Regions from separate parts of the Homo sapiens genome. Here region 1 is linked to region 2. The links come from fine-mapping of genetic effects on gene expression. Tissue or cell type: whole blood. Region 2 holds a variant in brackets; the other region holds the start of a gene. All regions are shown on one strand. Distances are between the middles of the regions.

What was found. PIP is the estimated chance that this variant, and not a neighbour inherited with it, causes the effect.
Region 1: TMCC1 starts here. The variant in region 2 is fine-mapped to the expression of TMCC1 in whole blood (INTERVAL, PIP above 0.99).

What each region holds. Positions count from the first base shown.
Region 1 is chr3:129,888,633-129,898,796 of GRCh38, reverse strand. TMCC1 (transmembrane and coiled-coil domain family 1) reads left to right here and starts at 5,086. Exons shown (of 7, transcript NM_001017395.5): 1 at 5,086-5,303. TMCC1-DT (TMCC1 divergent transcript) reads right to left here and starts at 4,926. Exons shown (of 3, transcript NR_037893.1): 1 at 4,870-4,926. RefSeq lists a silencer at 4,829-5,558 and enhancers at 4,920-5,711, 5,712-6,504.
Region 2 is chr3:129,911,258-129,921,421 of GRCh38, reverse strand. No RefSeq gene overlaps it. Among named protein-coding and RNA genes, the nearest start is that of TMCC1-DT, 22 kb to the right of the region's middle. The variant T/G (reference allele first, on the strand shown) is at 6,140.

The DNA.
Region 1 (10,164 bases), 23 kb after region 2:
GGATATAACTAAAATTCATAAATTGTTTTTAAGTAAGAAAGATTATCCTAGATAATCTGGTTGGTCTGGATTCAATCAGTAGAAAGTCTTTAAAAGCAGAGTTGAAGAAGAAGAAATTCTGAAGAAGAAATTCTGCCTGTGGACTGTGACTTCAGCCCTTGCCTGAAATTTCCAGCCTATTCTCCTGCCTGCATTATAGATTTCCAACTTGCCTAATCAGCCCCCCTCCCCCCACATAAGTCAATTCCTTGAAGTAAATCTCACTGTGTATCTCCTACTGGTTCTGCTTCTCTGTTGGAACCCTGACTGATACCGATTTGGTACTGAAAGTGGCTCTAGAGGAATGGAATCTTGAGGATGAGTTTTCTGAATTTGTTCTGCGTTTTCTTGAATTTCTTGAATTTCATGAATTCTTATATGATTACATTTAAAGGCACTAGTGACTCTATTTCCAGTGGTGAAGAGGGCACTGGGAGTCCATGGCATGATAAAGCATCGAATACGCCTAATGAAACACCTATAGAAAGCAAGGTTATGCGTGACTGTGTATTTGTTACCTTAGAATATTTTAGTTAAACCAAGGAACAGAATGGCATTGGCCATAACTGCACTGAAGAAAGCAGGCAAAGAAAAGGATGAGCTCAGGGTTTCAGATTCCCACCTTTCAGTGTTTAAAGCTTTAAGCTATGCATAGATGACCTGGAAGCTTCCATATCTGTCCTGAAAGGAACCCTTAGGGCCACAATTTCTGAAAACCAACCCAGAGTCTCATTCTGCAAGGGGCTGATACAGATGCTGTTTAGAGCCTTTGGCAGGCCACTGTAGGTGAATCACGCTGCAGACCCTTAAGATTTTGGAGCAAAGCCCTGCAGAAGAGTACTGTCCTCTTGAGAAACAACGTTTGGCTTGCTGGGCCTAAGCAGAGACTGAACAGTTAACCGTGGGTCATCAAGTTACCATGTGACCTGAGCTGCTCATCATGAACTAAGTGTTATCTGATCCACCAAGCTATAAAGTTGTGCACTCACAGCAACACTCCATTATCAAATTGAAGTGGTATATATGAGATTGGGCTCAAATGGGCCCTGAAGGCATAGGTAAGTTGCACGAGGAAGTGGCCCAAATATCCATGGCCCCAACTCCTGCTACATTACCTTCTCTCTCCCAGCCTGCACCTATGGCGCCATGGGGCATTCCTTATGACCAGTTGACTGAAGAAGGGAAAACTCAGTTGTGGTTCATAGCCCAGGTTTATGATGGTTCTGCACAATATGCAGGCACCAGTGAAAATAAAACTAGTGTCCCTTTCTGGGACATCCCTGAAGAATAATGGTGAAAAAAAAATCCCCCAGTTGGCAGAACTTTGAAGAGTGTACTTGGTTGTTCATTTTTCCTGAAAGTAGAAACGTCCAGAGGCTCTTCTGACCAAGAGGTCTTAGTTCCAAAAGAAGGAATGCTTCCACCAGGAGACCCAACAACATTTCCATTGAATTGGGAGTTGAGGTGGTCACCTGGCCACCTTGGGTCTTTCATGCCTCTGAATCAACAGGTAAAGTGGGAAGTTCCTCTACTGGCTGAGGTGACTAATCCTGATTACTAAGCAGGAAATTCGGTTGCTACTACAAGATGGAGACGTATTAATGATAGGTAACTTTATATTGCAGTATTAAGTTATAAGACATCAAAGGTGGAGAAGAAACATCACTCAAGGACTTTGCATCCCCTTGGGAAAAGTGTTGTTATGTTTTCAATAGTATGCAGGATAGTTATATCATGTTAAGTGAAAGTATGACTTTGTTATTGTCTTTAAATTTTTTTTTTTTTTGAGACATAGTCTCACTCTGTCACCCAGGCTTGAATGCAATGGCATGATCTTGGCTCACTGCAACCGCCGCCTCCCAAGTTCAAGCGATTCTCCTGCCTCAGCCTCCTGAGTAGCTGGGATTAGAGGCATACGCTGCCACATCCGGCTAATTTTTGTATTTTTAGTAGAGATGGGGTTTCACCATGTTGGCCAAGCTGGTCTCAAACTCCTGACCTCATGATCTGCCCACATTGGCCTCCCAAAGTGCTGGGATTACAGGCGTGAGCCACTGCGCCCAGCCAAAGACTTTTTTTTTTTAAGAGATATGGTCTTGCTGTGGTACCCAGGCCGGAGTACAGTGGTGCGATCATAGGTCACTGCAACCTTGAACTCCTGGGCTCAAGGGATCCTCCTGCCTCAGGCTCCCCAGTAGCTAGGACTACAGGTGTACACTCCCACACTGGCTAATTAAAAAAAATTTTTTTTGTAGAAATGGGGTCTCATTAGGTTGCCCAGGCTGGTCTTGAACTCCTGGGCTGAAGCGATCCTCTTGCCTTGGCCTCCCAAAGTGCTGGGATTACAGGGTCCCTGGTGTGTTATTGTCAGCCTTTAGAGATCAAGTATGGTTAAGGAGATGTGTAGGAGTGTGATTGCTGGGTCATCGGTCTTAATTTTAGCTATCCTAATGAGAGTGTTGTGGTTTTAAATGGAAAAATCCCTAGTTGACTAAAGATGTTGGTAATCTCTTCATTGCTTATAGGCCATTTTTGTATCTTGTGAACTATCTACAAGATATAAAAAAAGCCTTTGCCCATTGGTTTATTGGGCTGGCTTATTACTCATTTATAACAGTTCTTTATGTATTCTGGATACAAGACTTTTGTCTAATGCTTTCTATTGCAAACTCTCCACCTGTGGCTTGCCTTTTCATTTTCTTAATGTTGTCTCTCAAAGAGTACCAGTTTTTAATTTTGATAGAGTTCAACTTATCAATTGCTTTCTTTTTTTTTTTTTTTTTTTTGAGACAGGGTCTCACCCTGTCACTCAGGCTGGAGTGCAGTGGCGCCATCTCAGCTCACTGCAACCTCCGCCTCCCAGGTTCAAGTGATCCTCCTTCCTCAGCCCCACAAGTTAGCTGAGACTGCAGGTACGTGCCAACAAGCCCAGCTAACTTTTGTATTTTTTGTAGAGATAGCATTTTGCCATGTTGCCCAGGCTGGTCTTGAACTCCTGAGCTCAAGTGATCTGCCTGCCTTGGCCTCCCAAAGTGCTGGGATTACAGGTGTGAGCCAGGCCATGAATCACTTTTTATGGTTCATATTTTTTGTGTCCTAAGAAGTCTTTGCCTATCCCAAGGTCACAAATACTTTTTCTATGTTTTCTTCTAAAATTTTCTTTTATAGGTTTAGCTTTTAAATTTAGGTTTATCATCCATTTTGAGTTACCTCAGGTGGCTCCTTCAGTGCTTCTGAAATCTATAAATGCATCCTCCACCAACCTCAAATCTAAGTAAACCTTGCCACCTCCTTCTCCTTCACTCCTCATTCAATTTATTGCCAAGTCCTGTCCATTTTACCACTACATTAGCACTCTTCTCTGTCACTACCCTCCTACTTTGCCTTGACTATGTGGCCAGTGGCCTCCTAACTGGCTTCCCGGCCCCAGCTTTGAGACTCCCATCAGACCACTCTTCACGTTGCTATCTAAGTAACTTAAAAACAGACATAATGGGCTGGGGGCAAGGTGGCTCACACCTGTAATCCCAGCACTTTGGGAGGCCGAGGTGGGTGGATCATGAAGTCAGGAGATTCAGACCATCCTGGCCAACATGGTGAAACCCCGTTTCTACTAAAAATACTAAAAAAATTAGCTGGGTGCAGTGGCGTGCACCTGTAGTCCCAGGTACTAGGGAGGCTGAGGCAGGAAAATCACTTGAACCCGGGAGGCAGAGATTGCAGGGAGCCGAGATCGCGCCACTGCACTCCAGTCTGCCTCTCAAAAACAAAAAACAGACATAATGATCAAGTTATTTCCCCTGCAACCCTGCTGAAAAAAACCTGAATAGCTTCTACCAAGCACTCAGATTAAAGTCCCAAATCCGGCCGGGTGTGGTGGCTCATGCCTGCAATCCCAGCACTTTGGGAGGCCGAGGCGGGCAGATCACAAGGTCAGGAGTTCCAGACCAGCCTGGCCAAGATGGCGAAACCCCATCTCTACTAAAAATACAAAAATTAGCCAGGTGCGCTGGCGTGCGCTGGTAGTCCAGCTACTCCGGAGGCTGAGACAGGAGAATCGCTTGAACCCAGGAGGCGGAGGTTGCAGTGAGCTGAGATCGAGCCATTGCACTCCAGCCTGGGTGACCTGGGTGACAGAGTGAGACTCTGTCTCAATAAATAAATAAATAAATAGGTCCCCAATCCTCACCTGTTCTCGCCTACCTCTTCCCACACTCGCAGTCTACTCCACATTCAATATTCTTTAGCGCTCCCCATTCTGGCCATGCCAAGACCTCACCCCTTGGAGCAACTAACTCCTCCCAACTCAATTCCTCAGATTCTACCCTCTTCATCCTCAACTAAATCAATTCCCCCATAAAGATTCTCTTAGTACCATATACCTCTCAGAAGATTTTTACTAATTGAAAACTTAATTTTGTCTGATTCTCCCATGAATGTTTTCCTTCTCCACCAGATCTCAAACTTCATGAGACCAGGGACTCCGTTGACCCCATATGGTACTCCCAGCTCCTTGAACACGGAAGAAGCCTCATTACATAAGTAATAAAAATAAAATAAATTAGGAAAATGGGAATTATAAAGGGATGGGCTGGTGGCTGCTTACAATCCCTTCAGTGGTAATACCTGGTGCAAAGTAATGAGTCTCTGCCCTTTTCCAAGCAGCCTGCTAGGTGGAATGAAGGAAGGCCTTGCGACTCAAATAGGGAGAACAAACGTGTGATCCAGAGCGGCGGGCAGAAATCCGACGAAACCCCATATTACTCAGGGGCGTTGCTCCTAGGGCGAGGGTGGCTCGGTTCCTAGAGCTTTTTGAGAGGAGGAGCTTACCTGGAGCAACTCAGCACTACCTGCAGCGGCGCAGCTCAACCAGCCCAGAGACCGCGTGGGAAGGCGGGCTAGGGGAGGGGCCACGCCTTCCAGGGCCCATCCCCGCCCCTGCGGCGTGCGCGCGCCCGTCCGCCCGCTCCCTTGCGCGTGCGCCGCCGGCCGGGGGCGGAGGTTGTGGGCGGTGGCGGCTGTGGCGGGGGCGCGCGCGCGCTCGCTCTCTCGCGCCGGTTCGCCCTCCCGCGCCGGGGCTGAGGCGGCGGCGGCGGTGGCGGTGACTGAGGCGGCGGCGGCTGAGGCGGCGCGGGGGGAGGGTCGGGAGGGGGGGGTGGTTGTGGGGGATGGACCGGGTGCGGCGGCCGCAGTGGAAGGAGCAGGCGCTTGAGCTCGAGCGACGGCGCTGGCGGAGACGCCGGCTGCTCCTCCCCTCCCCGCCGGTGAGTGAGCGCCCCCGCCCCGGACGCTGGCGGCGGTCGCGGCCCCCTCACGGCCCTCCGCGGTGGGTGGGGACAGTCGTGAGGGAGCGTGGCCTGGCGGCGCAGCGGACGCGGGCCTGGCCTCCCGCTCGCGGCCTGTCGGGGCTGGGACCTGCCGTCGCCCCCGTTCGAGGTTGAAGCCCCGGGCCTAGGACTCGACCCCCAGCATCCCACGGGGCCTCTTTCCTTTCCCGGCTCATTCCGCTGTCATTTTGACCTGGGGTTCCCCTCCAGCCCCTCGCCTCGTTCCCTTCCCAGCATCCCAGGGCCGAGGTGAGGGAGGGGCGTGTGAGAAGTCGGGCCGAGGCCCGAGGGACTGTTTAGGAGCCGGTTCCCGTCGGAATCTGGGGTTTTAGGAGCCCTCGATCGCCATGGCGTCCCAGAAGTTAGCCACCAGGACTCAGCCATTTCCACCTGAAACCAGTTTTGCACCTATTGTTTTGATTTTGAACTGTCTTTCGAGGGGAGGAGGGAGCCCGGCGTACTGGGGAGAATATGTAGTGGGAGGTGGGATGTGAGGAGGAGCTGGCTGGGCTTGGTCTCGGCCTCAGGATGCCCCCTGTTAACCCCTGTAGGATAGGGGAAAGAGGTGCAGCGAGTTGCACCTTCCCTAAAGGGCCAGAGATTCGTTTATAGCTTGCGAATCTCTGCTTTTTCAGCCTCGGTAAAGGGGTATCATTTGTGGTTGGTTTGGTTCGTCCCTTAACAACATTCTTGGTGAGGAATCCCCAGGTGAATCTGCCACGGAGTGAAGCAGCCCACTTGAGCTGTTGGCTACCCCCGGCCCCCGCAACGCCCGTTGGCTTTTGTGACACGTTACACGTTAGTGTTGGTAGAGCCTAGCCGTCAGAGGTACCTGTACCATAAGCATCTCTACGAAAGGTGTGAATTCCTAAATTAGCTTATTCTGTTCTTAAAAAAAAAAAATCCAGGGCATAAATATCAGATAGCTGCTTTAAAATAAAACAAAACTTTGATTTGTTCCAGGAGGTAGATACATTTTTTTCTCTGTATATTAGGAGATTGAAACTCAAATTGTGAGTAGGTGGTAGTTTTACTAGTGTCATGTGACAAAACGATGCTTATAGATGGGATTTTAACTTAATAACCCTGTCCTCTACCAACAGAGTTGGCTTGTATTTTTTTGCAATCACCCACTCTCTGGCTAGTGTAGAAAGATTAAAAAGCTGCTTCTGGTCTGTGGGTGGTAACCTTTTAATTTCTGAAGAGTTTTGAGCTGCTTATAGATTGCTGATCAGCAGCATAGGAAAATTTTAGACGTTAAAAATTCATTAGCATGTGATGTAGAACTGTTATAATTATGAGCATTGATTAAGATTTGGTATGGTGTAGGTGCTGTGTACTGTGTATAAGAATGAGATTTCTCAGAGCATTTGCATCTTAAGATAAACAGAAGCACAGACCGCTGACAGTGTTGGGACACCTTGCAGAAGGACTCTTTTATGAGCACAAAAGACCTGTAGTCTACAATTTGATGAAGAACCCCAGTGCCCTAGACTAGTTGGTGACCAACCACCATTACTTTAAACTGGGCCTTCTTGATAGTAGAATATTTCCCCTTTTCTGCAAGACTGCTTATGCCTCTCATAAATGTGCAGAACATATAATGGCTCAGGGCTTAGGTTTAAGCTCCTCAGAGTGGCATTTATGGATCATTCATTAATTCATCAAATGTTTATTGAGCCCTTACTTTGTTCCAGGATGTTTTCTAAGTACTGGGCTACATTGTTGGGACAAAACAGACAAGGCCTCTTCCCTAATTAAGCTTTATTCTGTATGTATGGGAATGAGGAATATACAACAAACAAGCAAATAGGATCATTTCAGATAATGATATAAATCAGTGGTTAGTAAGCTTTTTTTGGTAAAGGACCAGGAAGTACAGTACATACCAGGGTTTTTGGGCCATATGATCTCTTTTGCAACTACTCAATTCTGTTTTAGTACAAAAGCAGCCACAGACAGTACGTGAACAAATATGTTTATATTCCAGTTAAACTTGGGACACTGAAATTTGAATTTCATAAAATTTTCACATGTCACAGAATATTAATGAGTTTTTAAAAATATTTTCCCCTAGCCATTTAAAAATGTAAAACCATTCTTAGCCATATAAAACGGGGCAAGGTGGATTTGGCCTATAGATTATAGTCTGGCCTTTTATAGAAAATGTTTGCTGACCCCTAATATGAATTATGAAGAAAATAAAACAAGCTGATGTGACAAGTGAATGACTGAAAGGTGGGTGGAGGGTTACTTAGTGAGAGGAGGCCTCATTAAGGAGAAGGTATTTGAGTTGTGACCTGAAAAATGGTAGCGCTTTCCTGGTAAATGAAACAGTGAGTGCAAAGGTCTGCAGGTGCAGATGAGCTGCTCTTGTTTTCCAGTGTTGAACTTCCCCACATAACATGTCATTCTTACATTTTATGTAAATACATTTTATGTCTTTGTTAGAATGTTGTTCTTCATGTAATAGGATGGTACCTTTCCGTTTCCTCTTCCTGATCCTGCCTTACAGTACCCATGGAGTAAGACTGCAGTGGAGTTGCACCTCATCCCAGGGTTAGGTCCTCAAGTTAGTGCATGAGGCAAAAATCATGTAAGATGAAAACTCTTCTGGAAAATTCCATAAATTGCTCAAAAAGTATGGTCTGCATGTTTTTGTATGTATAGTTGTATAAAATTCTTACGAATATGAAAGGCTGAGAGCCACAGAGCTTGACTGAGGGAAAGAGCAAGAGGAAATAAATTGTTATATAGGTATCTGGGCCTTCAGACTGTTTGGCTTTTTAAAACTGCTCTGGAGTCCCTATCAGAGAGTGGGGGATGGTATAGAATTTTGACATGTTCCTGTTTCCATGCAGGGTTTAATTCTATTTTTATGTTAAGCCTCTATTACATTAATACATGCTCATAGATGTGTTGCGAATATTAAACAAGATAATGTATTTGAAAGAGCCCGGCACTTAAGATAGTCAGTAAACATTTGCAGAATTAGAATCTGATTTTTACTTCTTTGGGCTCACATACATACTGTCCTTTGAAAAGTTGTAGAGAACTTAGCCACCTGCTTCCTGTCTATCCATATTGGCATTTCCTGTTGTGGCTCCACTGAACAGCTGTCACTCTCTTTGTCCTTGAGCATTGGTCACATTTTGCCAGAGGTTGGCTTGTAAGTTAAATGGGTATAGGTGTAACTCTGTTAGTTCTGCCACATGACCCTTAAAGTGTTTGAGCACTGCTATTATGTCTCCTATTTAAGTCTTCACTTTTCAGAGCTGAATGTTTTTATTTTTCTTTTTTTTAAAGATATTATGGAGAGAGATGGGGTCTCATATGTTGCCTAGGCAAACTCCTGGCCTCAAGTGATCCCCCTTGCCTTGGCCTCCAAAAGTGCTGGGTTTATAAGCATGAGCCACCATGCCCCAGCCATTTTAATTTCTGTTAGCTTTTTCTTATTTCTTCACCCTTCTGGTTGTTGTGAGCTTAGTTTATTCTTTTTTTTTTTTTTTAACTTTGCTACTCTGAAGTATATTTTAAGGTACAAATTCAAGTTTTATCTCCTTGACCAAATCTTTCCTGATAATTCTAGACCTTCTTTATATTCTTAATATAGTTTTATCTTTACTCTTCAATTTAATTTTTTCTTATTTTTGTATTTTATACTAGTTTCATGAGCATTTGTCTTCACTCTGCGACAACAAGCTTCTTGAAGGCAAAGACCATATTTTAAGTATCTTTTGTGTCCTAGATGCACTGAGTAAAATTCCAGGGATGCCGTTGATCATAAATTTGTTATAATTTTTAAAAATAGACTTTAAAATTTAGATTTACAGAAACATTGCAAAGATACTGCAGAGTTCCTGCCTATCCTACACTGTTTCCCATATTATTAACGTCTTACATCCCTGTGATCATTTGTCTGTATTAATAAACCAGTATTGATACATTATCACAGAGACCATACTTTATCAGGTTTCCACAGGTTTTTTCCTTAATGTTCTTTCACTATCCCAGGATCCCATCCACAATACCACATTACATTTAGTAATTATGTCTCCTTAGCTCCTCTTGGTTGTGACAATTTCTCAGACTTTCCCTGTATTTAGTGACCTTGGCAGTTTTGAACATTACTGGTCAGGTTTTGTTTGTTTGTTTTTTTGAGACAGGATCTCCCTCTGTCACCAAGACTGGAGTGCAGTGGAACGATCTCATCTCACTGCAGCCTCAACACTCTGGGGTCAAGTGATCCTCTGACCTCAATGTCCGGAGTAGCTGGGCCCAGAGATGTGTGCCATCATGCTCTGCTAATTTTTGTACTTTTTGTAGAGATGGGGTTTCACCATGGTGCCCAGGCTGGTCTCGAACTCCTAGAACCAAGCAATCCACCCTCCTCAGCTTCCTAAAGTGCTGGGATTACAGGCGTGAGTCACTGTGTCCAGCCGTGGTCAGGTATTTTTATAGAACGTTCTTTGGGATTTATCTGATGTTTTCATTGTGGTTAGGCCAAGAATGTAATATGCTTTTGGAAGGAAGACCACAGGGCTAAAGTGTCATTCTCATCACATATTAGGGATGTATACTACCAGTATGACTTATCAGTGTTGATGTTAACCCTGCTCATCTGGCTTGAGGCAGAGTTTGTTTTCTGCAAAGTTACTCTTTCCTCCTCTCTTTCCTACTGTACTCTGGAAAATTGTCACTATGTACAGCCCACACTTAGTGGTGATGAGTTATGTTCTACCTCCTTAAGGGTGGTGTATCTACTTAAATTTCATTGCTAAATTATTTCAGCTTTGGC
Region 2 (10,164 bases):
CAAGTGATCCTCCTGTCTCACAGCCTTCTGAGTAGCCAGGACTACAGGCGTGCACCACCACACCCAGCTAATTTTTTGTATTTTTAGTAGAGGCGGGTTTTGCCATGTTACCCAGGCTGATCTTGGACTCTTGGCTCAAGCAATCCTCCTGCCTCGGCCTCCGAGAGCGCTGGGATTACAGGCGTGAGCCACTGCACCCAGCCGTCTTCTCCTTGTTCTGCCATCAGCAGCCACATCCTGTGACTCCCCAGCCCACTCAGCTTCCCTTGTTTTCCATCACATGCAGAATAAAACCCAAAAGCTGGCCCCCAGCCGCTCTCCTAACCTTGTTTCTTATTGCTCTCCCGCTGGCTCCTCCTAGACCAACCTCACTCCTTGCTGACCTGAAACACACCCTGCACTTGGCTGTGGGACGAAAGTGGCCCTCACTGTTCCCAGAGCGCGCCACGGGGCTAACTCCCACGCTTCCTGCAGGGCTCTGCTCCAACACCACCTCCCCAGGAGGACTCATCCAGCACCCGTATGAAGCACCCATTCCGTGAAACACGCTAAATATTTTTATTTTATTATTATTTTTTTTGAGACAGGGTCTCACTCTGTTGTCCAGGCTGGAATGCAGTGGCACTATCTCAGCTCACTGAAACCACCACCTCATGGGTTGAAGCCATTCTCCTGCCTCAGCCTCCCGAGTAGCTGGGACTACAGGCGCATGCTGCTACGCCCAGCTAATTATTTGTATTTTAGTAGAGACGAGGTTTCACCATGTTGCCCAGGCTGGTCTCGAACTCCTGAGCTTAGGCAATCCACCCGTCTCAGCCTCCCAAAATGCTAGGATTACAGATGTGAGCCACCACGCCTGGCTGAAACACACTAAATATTTTCAATCATTTCTGTTTTTAATTTTTCTGGCAGTTATTCAAAACTCTAAATGTGAGTAAGCCCCCTACTTCTAGATTTGTAATTTCATAAAAGTTGAGCAATTAGCTCACTTGTACCATGCCCTGGCTACACTCATTGTAACTGTTTCTCATCTCCTGTAGCAAACTTCATTTAGAGGTCACCTTTATAACTCTGTACCTGTCTTCTCAGCTCTATTTCGGGAGCTATCACGGGGAAATGACATCTGCGTACCACTCCTAAGTCCCATAGCCTCTGACAGCTGTATCCGACAAGATCGGGTGCGTTCAGGCTGGTATGAGCGAAGACCCCGCTGATAACTTTACATGGCCTTTTCCCACCTATTGTCCAAATTCTGTCAACTCTAGCTTGTTTAAATGGTTTTATTTTTATATTTTCTGTAAATACAATTAAGCTTTTCATGCTTTGTGTGCTGATTCAGAAAAGTAAAATAAATAAGAAAAGTAAAATAAATAACTAGCATTTAGGTTAATATGATTACGTAACTTTCCCCCTATGGATCCAAGACATAAAACTGGACACAATGACTCCATACCAGCCCTGCATCAAACTGTTTCCTGTGAAAATGGGTTTTTAGATTTATCATCCATTATATGTTTAAAGTCATGCCTCATCTTAATTGGTCTCATGTTTGGTCTGACTTTCTAGCACAGATCTATTGTACTAGAATATGTAATTGGCTTACTTACATTTTTGACATAACAAGCATATGGATTCCCCCTCATTACTAAGAGTCCTAATTGTAGCCTCTTAGCTTAATTATAACCTGTTTAATACTAAATTCACTTTCTCTGTGAAATCTCTCTTCGTGGCGCTCCCCTTGAATTCTTGTTCTAAGAGAGAGGGAGAGAGAGAAAGAGAAGGAGAGAGAGAGAGAGAGAGAGAAGGAAGGAAGGAGAGAAGGGAGGGAGGGAGGAAGAAAGGAAAGAAAGAAGGAAAGAGAAAGATCAGCTTCTTTTCTGCCTTTCCTCCTTACCCCCTTTCCCTTTTCCTTACCTTCCTTTCCTTCTTTTTCCTTTTCCTTTCTTTTATTTTCTTTCTCTCTCTCTGTTTCTTTCCCTCCCTCCCTCCCACCCTCCGTCCCTCCCTCCTTCCCTCCTTTCCCTCCCTCCCTCTCTCTCTTTCTCTCTTTCTTTCTTTCTTTCTTTTTTTCTTTCTTCTTTCTTCAGTATTCACACCTGGGGGACCCTTAACCCCAAAGTGGATTTTATGGACAACAGCACACTGGGGAGACAAGGAGCCCCACAGCACTCCCACCCTCTCCCCAGGTCACTTCTTGCTTCCTGGTCCTGCTCTTTATTGGGGAAGGAGAATCGTATTTGACCAGTGGAACTCCAGGACAGTCCCTGGCCACCATCAGTAGTGGGCAGGGTCACAGCATGTTCTAGGCTGTGCACACTGAGCCACCGGCCATGCACAAGGGCAGGGCCTTCTGGACCTCCCTCAAACTTCTTAATAACACATGAGGAAGCTCCCTGATGGGAGCCACTCTGACCCCATGCCACTCTAACCCCAGCACAGTCTGGTTCCCAGGACTTCAGGATCCTCCTGGAGACCTCTCAGCATGATTAACACAGTCAGACGAGACCTGAAGGGGCCGCTGGTCCTTCTGAAAATGCTCACTGGGCAGTGTGAGTGTGGGGAGGCCATGCACAATGTGTGGGACTCTGCCTTGCACCTGCTCAGAGCCTCAGCCCTTCAGAGCCACTGGTAATGATTTTCTGTGGGTGGGGTCATCCTGATACTTCTCTGAGGTCTCTTTTCCTTTCAGTTTTTCTGAGTAACTGAGAGGATCACATGACTGCATACTGCCTAAACTAGGGTGTGCACAGCCCCCATTCTGTGCAGGGAGGGCGCAAAGCAGCAGATTGCCTGTGACTCATCTGCCACCTTTCCAATGCTACTACAAAATTTGCAAGAAACGGTAGTGTTATCAGGAATCACCTTTATTTAAAAAGATAAAGCAGGATTGCTGGGCACACGGAAGCGTGAGCATATCGCCCGGCTTCTCTCCACAGCTGTCGCCCGGCTTCTCTCCACAGCTGTTGGCGTCCACTGTCAGGTTTCCATGTTCTTGGACCTCAGGGCCTTCATCCTCTCCAATCTAAATGCAGAGAGACATTTGATACGGACTCTCTCAGTTGTTTTGCAAAATGCAACACACTCTCATTGACTCTGGTCACCCTGCTGTGCGCTAGATGTCAAAACCTCTTCCTCCTGTCCGGACTTTGGTCCTTTAACCGACAACCCTGATGGTCTGCAGGTCAGTGCTGGGTGGGGGATGAAGCAAGGCTTTCTGGAGGCCAGTGTGCTGAGCCCTGCAGTGTGAGGAGAGGTCGCCTAAGTAAGTAGGGACAAGGGCAGGAGGGTAGCCTCTGCAAAAGCTCAGGGATGACCGAGGGTGTCTTGCTGGAGTGATGTGCTAGTCTGAAGGTAGGACTGGGGCCAGGTTGGGAGAGCTCGAGTCCCAGGACAGAAGCTGAGCCTGTATTCTGAGGGCCGTGGGCACTGTGGAATAGTTCTGAGCCCCCTTGCTGGGCCACAGCCTTCAAACCCTGACTCTGCTCCTGACGTGGGAGTGGGCTCAACTGAACTTTACCACCACACCAGCCTCACTGCCTCCAGTCTCCCCCACCCACACCCCTCCATTCAGGCTCCCAAAGGGATCCAAGGGAAAGCCACCTCTGGGCTCCACCACCCAGCTGGTGGCCCTGAGAGCTTCAGAGGGAAGCCCTTCTCCTTGTCCACCAGGGCTCACCTGGGCAGCCCCACAGCCCTGCCTTTCAGACCACCCCATGTGCCCAGGTGGGTCACGTGATTCTTGAAAACAAAATGCTTGTTCCTTGGTGCCACAAGGAAAAATTAGCATTCAGACAAAAAGTTTTCTCAGCAAGGCAATTTTACTTTCTGCAGAAAGGATGCTGCCCATCAGCAATTTTGCCACAAGAGCACGATGAATAAAGAAAGGCAGGAATATTTATCCCTTACACACTGGGTCCTTACTGCTGTGTCCTCTCTTCGTTGCTTGGAGACGGACCTCACAATCTAAGCTAAACTCAATTGGCTAACAACTTAAAACTTTCCTAAATAGGTAAAGGCAATGGAGAACAAAAGGAAAAGAGGAAGTTGCTTGCAAAAGGTCTTAGAAAAGTAATAACATTTCCAAATAAGGAAGGAAGAGGAAGTTAGTCTTTAAAAGAAACTATTACTTTTAACATTTATTATTTATTCTTTAACAAGAAGGGAAACTTTGAAGAGGAACTTTTTATTTTCCACACCGTCATGTTTCCTACACACCGTCCCCACTGCCTAGAGTTCCCCCCTTACTCTCCTGCACTGAGTGACTTCCTGTCCCTTCAGTCCTAGCTGAGATATCCGGTACTCTGGGGAGCATCCCTGAGCCCTGGACACAGAGGAGCCCCTTCTGCCCTGGATCCCAGAACCACTTGTGCTTTCCTCCTATCACAGTGCAGAAACTCCCACCACACACACACACAAACACAAACAGACACACACACACACACACACACACACACACACACAGACACCGGCACACATATTCACACACACTTGCCACCATTTGGGGACATTGATTACTGCCTGCTGGACCACCCCTCTCCCACCCCAGCCTCTCAGGGAGCCCCAGGCAGAGGTGCTGCTATTAATAGTAGGGGCCCTGTAGGTGCATTGGAGGTAGGGAAGGGAAGGGCTCCCCAGGAATACCCCTGCCTGGATGACAGCCACCCCATGGGGGGCACGGCCACCAGGAAACTTAGGTCTTGAATAAGCGGAGGCAGCAGGTACAGGCTGGAAGGATAAGGTGGGGCCAGATTCCCAGGGTCCCTAAATGCCAGGATGAGGTGCTTCTATTGTCTCCTGGGGTGCAAGCTTTGGAAGAGGCGGGGCCCATGGGGGCAGCACTGGGGAGGCCGGCCTGGAGGGACATGGCCACTGAAGGGGTGCACCTGTCCCTGTCCCTGATGGCTCAGCCCTCACTGGCACCAGGAATCCCTTGGTGGGGAATGGGGGGTGTCATGGCCTCCTGCCTGGTGCCTGAATACCCCGACATGTTCCACCCAGGATCCTGCACTTCTTCCTTCTTTTGTTTTTTTTTTTGTTGTTGTTGTTGTTTTCAAGACAGAGTCTCACTCTGTCATGCAGGCTGGAGTGCAATGGTGTGATCTTGGCTCACTGCAACTTCCACTTCCTGGGGCCAAGCTATTCTCCTGCCTCAGACTCCTGAGTAGCTGGAATTACAGGCGTGCACCACCACGCCCAGCTCATTTTTTGTATTTTTAGTAGAGATGGGGTTTCACCATGTTGGCCAGGCTGGTCTCGAACTTTTGACTTCAAGTCATCTGCCTGCCTCAGCCTCCCAAAGTGCTGGGATTACAGGCGTGAGCCACCGCACCCGGCCTGTACTTCCTCCCTCTGCCCTAATGTCCCCCAATGATTGCTGAGTCACTCAGGCTTCCTCCCCTTGAAGTCTCTGCTCCCCTCAAGCTGCTCCCCCTTGCAGACTCCCCCCTTGTTTTTGTCACCCACACTGCACACCTTCTTGTCATTGACTCACCCTTGCTTTCCTTTTTTTTTTTTTTTTTTTTTTGTGAGACAGGATCTTGCTCTGTCACCCAGGCTGGAATGCAGTGGCACGATCATAGCTAACTGCAGCTTCAACCTCCCAGGCTCCAGTGATTCTCCCACCTCAGCCTCCTGAGAAGCTGGGACTACAGGCTCATGCCACCACACCTGGCTAATGTTTTGTATTTTTTATAGAGACAGGGTTTTGCCATGTTGCCCAGGCTGGTCTTAAACCCGTGGGCTCAAGTGATCCTCCCGTCTTGGCCTCCCAAAGTGCTGGGATTCCAGGCGGGAACCACCTACTGACTGTCTTCACATAGGCCATCACCAAATTAACTTCCTCTGGGGCAGGACAGGTGTGAAGTCGGTGAGGGGAAGCAGCAGGGTGTGAGGAACACAGATGGAAGTGCTGTGCTAAACGGACCTGGCCCCTAGGTGCAGTGTCGGGGAGTAACAGGGCATGGTGGAGACTGTGGCAAACGAGTGCACGGGCCAGGTCTAAGGGCAGCCACCATGCACCTCTAGCTGATTTCTGTTGTTGTTTTTAACACACACGTGTGCGCGTGTGTGCGCTCTGTCCCAGGTTTGAGCAACCACTGATCTACTTTGTGTCTTTATGGATTTGGCTGTTCTGAACATC[T/G]TATGTAAATGGAATCATACAACGTGTGGTCTTCTGTGATTGGCTCTCTGCACTTCACACGTTTTCCAGTTTCATCCACATTGCAGCTTGTGTCAGTATTTCAGTCCTTTCTATGGCCAAATAGTAATCCATTGTATGGCTATGCCACATTTTGTTCATTCACTCATCATTGTTGGAGATTTAGGTAGTTTTCACCTTTTGACTATTATCAATAATGCTGCTGTGAACATTTGTACACAAGTTTTTGTGTGGACATGTTTTCATTTCGGTTGGGTATATACCCAGGAGTGGAATTGCTGGAGTCATGTGGAAACTCTGTATTTACCTTTTTGAGGAACGGTCAGACTATTTTCCCAAGTAGCCACACCATTTCACATTCCCACCAACAGTGTATGAGCATTCCAATATCATGACATGACAACTCAATGCAGTCATTGATCCTGGCCTGGATCCAGTATTGGAGGGGAAAAAAAAAAAGCTGGAGGGTTGCCAAGACAACTGGCCACATTTGGAATATGAACTGTCAATGAGAAGGTATCATTATCAATAATAAATCTACTGAATTTAATAACTGCACTGCAGTTATGTAAGAGAAAGTCCCTGCTCTTAGGAAATACACTGAACTGTGAAGGGTAAAGGGACATGATATATGCAATGTACTCTCAAATGGCTCAGAAAAAAAAGAGAGAAAGAATGACTAAATAAGTGCGGCAACATGGTAGAAATTGCAGATTCTGGGTTAAGGGTATACAGGAGTTATTTGGCTTACTCCTGAAAATATCCTGTAAATTTAAAATTCTTTTCAAAATAACAAGTAAAAATTTATTTTATTTTATTTTATTTTTTGAGACAGAGTCTTGCTCTGTTGCTAGGCTGGAGTGTAGTGGCAAGATCTCGGCTCACTGCAACCTCCAACTCCCTGGTTCAAGGGGTTCTCTTGCCTCAGCCTCCCGAGTATCTGGGATTACAGGCATGTGCCACCAAGCCCAGCTAATTTTTGTATTTTTAGTAGAGACGGGATTTCACCATGTTGGCCAGGATGGTCTCAATCTCCTGACCTCATGATCTGCCCACCTCAGTCTCCCAAAGTGCTGGGATTACAGGCGTGAGCCACCGCCCCCGGCCAATAACAAGTAAAAATTTTTTAAAAGTTTCTAAAACCACAGAGCTGCTAAGGGTAGAGCTAAGATTGATGAATTGATAGAGTTTTGAGACAGGGTCTCTCTGTTGCCCAGACTGGAGTGCACACTGCAGCCTCAACCTCCTGGGCTCAAATGGTCCTCCCATCTCAGCCTGCTGAGTAGCTGAGACTACAGGTGCACGTCACCATGACTGGCTAATTTTTTGGTATTTTTTGTAGAGGTGGGATTTTGCCATGTTGCCTAGGCTGCTCTCAAACTTTTGGGCTCAAGCCATCCACCCGCCTCGTCCTCCCAAAGTGCTAGGATTACAAGTGTGAGGCACCATGCCAGGCCTAGAGCTGAGATTTAAATCCAAGCTGTTTGGCATTCAGGAACTCAATGTTATCTCTCTAATCAGGTAGCTCAACAGCTCTCATTTTACAGAGGAGGACACTGAGGCCCAGCCTGTTAGTTGTGGCATCAGGACTGGTTTGTGGGGGCCCAGCCTGGTGAGCTTCCACCACTCTCTTGGACTGTCCTGTTGACAGGGCTGAAGGTCCTGGCTTGAGACAGGACCTGATGTTTCTCTGGTGCCCCTCCCACCACTTGCTGAGTTAGTTGGATCTCAAAGGTAGGATCCTGCTGACCTTGTCTCTGGATTACTGGACAACAGGGACTGAGAAAGTTATGTTTAATTAGAAGAGACACAGGCCAGCCTTCATGGACTTAGTTGTATCCCTCTCTGTCCCACCACTGTGACATCTGTGATATTGTCTTCCCTGCCCAGCACCCCCTTTTCTTCTGGGAACAACACCTTCTTTTGGGGACCTGTTCCTTTCTGCTTTCTAATCACTATGTAATTTCAGTGGGTGTTATTGGTCATACGCTCATGGCCACAGTTGATCGGTCTAGGGATGGGCATTGTACTCAAAATGGGCCAATCAGAGCCTTTCCCTCAGATTTGCTGGACTGGACTGACGCAGGATACAGGTTTTCTAGCATGAGGCTCAGGAACTAATGGCAGCCACATCCCCCATTATGGGGAGAAAGCTGATCTGATAAAACTAGGAAAAGCAGAGAGGGGAGAAAGTGTCCAAGGGCCCACTTGTCTCTGAGGCCCTCCCTGCACTTCCCAAGGCTATGTTCCATAAGCACACCAGCATTCTCCCAATAAATGGCTCTGATTTTGCATATGCCTATTTGCTTTGGATTTCTATCACTTGAAGACAAACTAGATCAATAAGCCTGAGATCCCAATCACTAGCAATCCTGACCGTGAGGCCCCGGCAGGGAGGATGTCGGAGTTCTGTTCCCCTGGAGCTGACTGGCTCACTGAGTGGTCTCGAACTCCTGAACTCATGTGATCCACCCACCTCGGGCTCCCAAAGTGCTGGGAGTACAAGCGTGAGCCACCGTGCCCAGCCACAAATCTTAAGAATACATTTCTGGCTGGGTGCGGTGGCTCACGCTTGTACTCCCAGCACTTTGGGAGGCTGAGGTGGGCAGATTACCTGAGGTCACGAGTTCGAGACCAGCCTGGCCAACATGGCGAAACCCTGTATCTACTGAAAATACAAAAATTAGAATTAGCCAGGTATGGTGGCATATGCCTGTAATCCCAGCTCCTTGGGAGGCTAAGGCACGAGAATTGCTTGAATCTTGGAGGCGGAGGTTGCAGTGAGCTGAGATGGTGCCATTGTACTCCAGCCTGTGCAACAGAGCGAGACTCCATCTCAAAAAAAAAAAAAAAAATTTCTGTAGACATACTTACCTGTGTAACCACCACCCAGATCAAGACACAAAACATTTCCAGCACCCAAGAAGACTACTGTGTACTTCCCAGTCAGTGTGCTTGCCCCCGCCCACTACTGTTCTAGCCTACCTCTGTCATCATAGGCTAGTTTTGCCTATCCTTGAACTTCATGTAATGGAAATGCACAGTGTGTGCTGTTTTGTGTCCAGCTTCTTCTACTCAGCACAATATTGGGGATGCCTAATCTGTAATACTGGCCCCTATACTCTTCATCTTCATGCTGCTCCTGGAATGATAGCTAGCATTTGTTAGGTATCTGGCACTGTTCAAGATCTTTACATTATATATTCATTTGCTCCTCATAGTACACCTATGAGGTAAGCACAAACGAAGACACTGGGGCACAAAGAGGTGAGGGAATTTGCCCAAGACACAGATCTGAAGTGGCATAATTAGGATGGGAAGGCAGGCCATCCACCTCCAGTCCATGCTCACACCTAACAGCTAGGGGATCTCATATGCACTTTAAGGACTGAGAGAGACTCTCCAGGTAGAGCTGAGTTTTTGGAGGGTCAAATGGGAAAACAGAAGTAAAAATGTACTAAAAAGAGAAAAGAGTTATACAAATATAAGTCAGGATTATACTTCATTTAATATGACTAGGACCACCATTCACTCATTTGTAAATCTTAATAAATATTAATTAAATAAATATTTAATTAATATTTATCAATATTTATTGATTTAATTAATATTTAATTTAATATTTATTAATTTAATTAATATTTATTGAGCTCCTAAAGATACATGGAGGTCAGTGGGTTCAGAATGACAGAGACAAAGTCCCTGCACTGGTGGAGCTTACAGTCCAGAGAGGAAGGCAGAAATGTAAGGGGAAGTTATGGGTATGTTGAGCTAAGAGGAAATTCAGAGTGTTTTGAGAGAATGTCATAAGAGCAGCTGACTTTGTGGGGTCAGGGAAGGCCACCCTGAGGAAATGACATTCAAGCTGAGACCTGAACCATTTAAGCCAACTCTGTTGGAGAGGAAGGAGTATCAGGAACAGGGAATAGCATAAGCAAAGGCCCTGAAGTAAGAAAAACTAGCACAATCATTAGAAATTTTAAGTCATATCACTTCTTGGCCTTTTG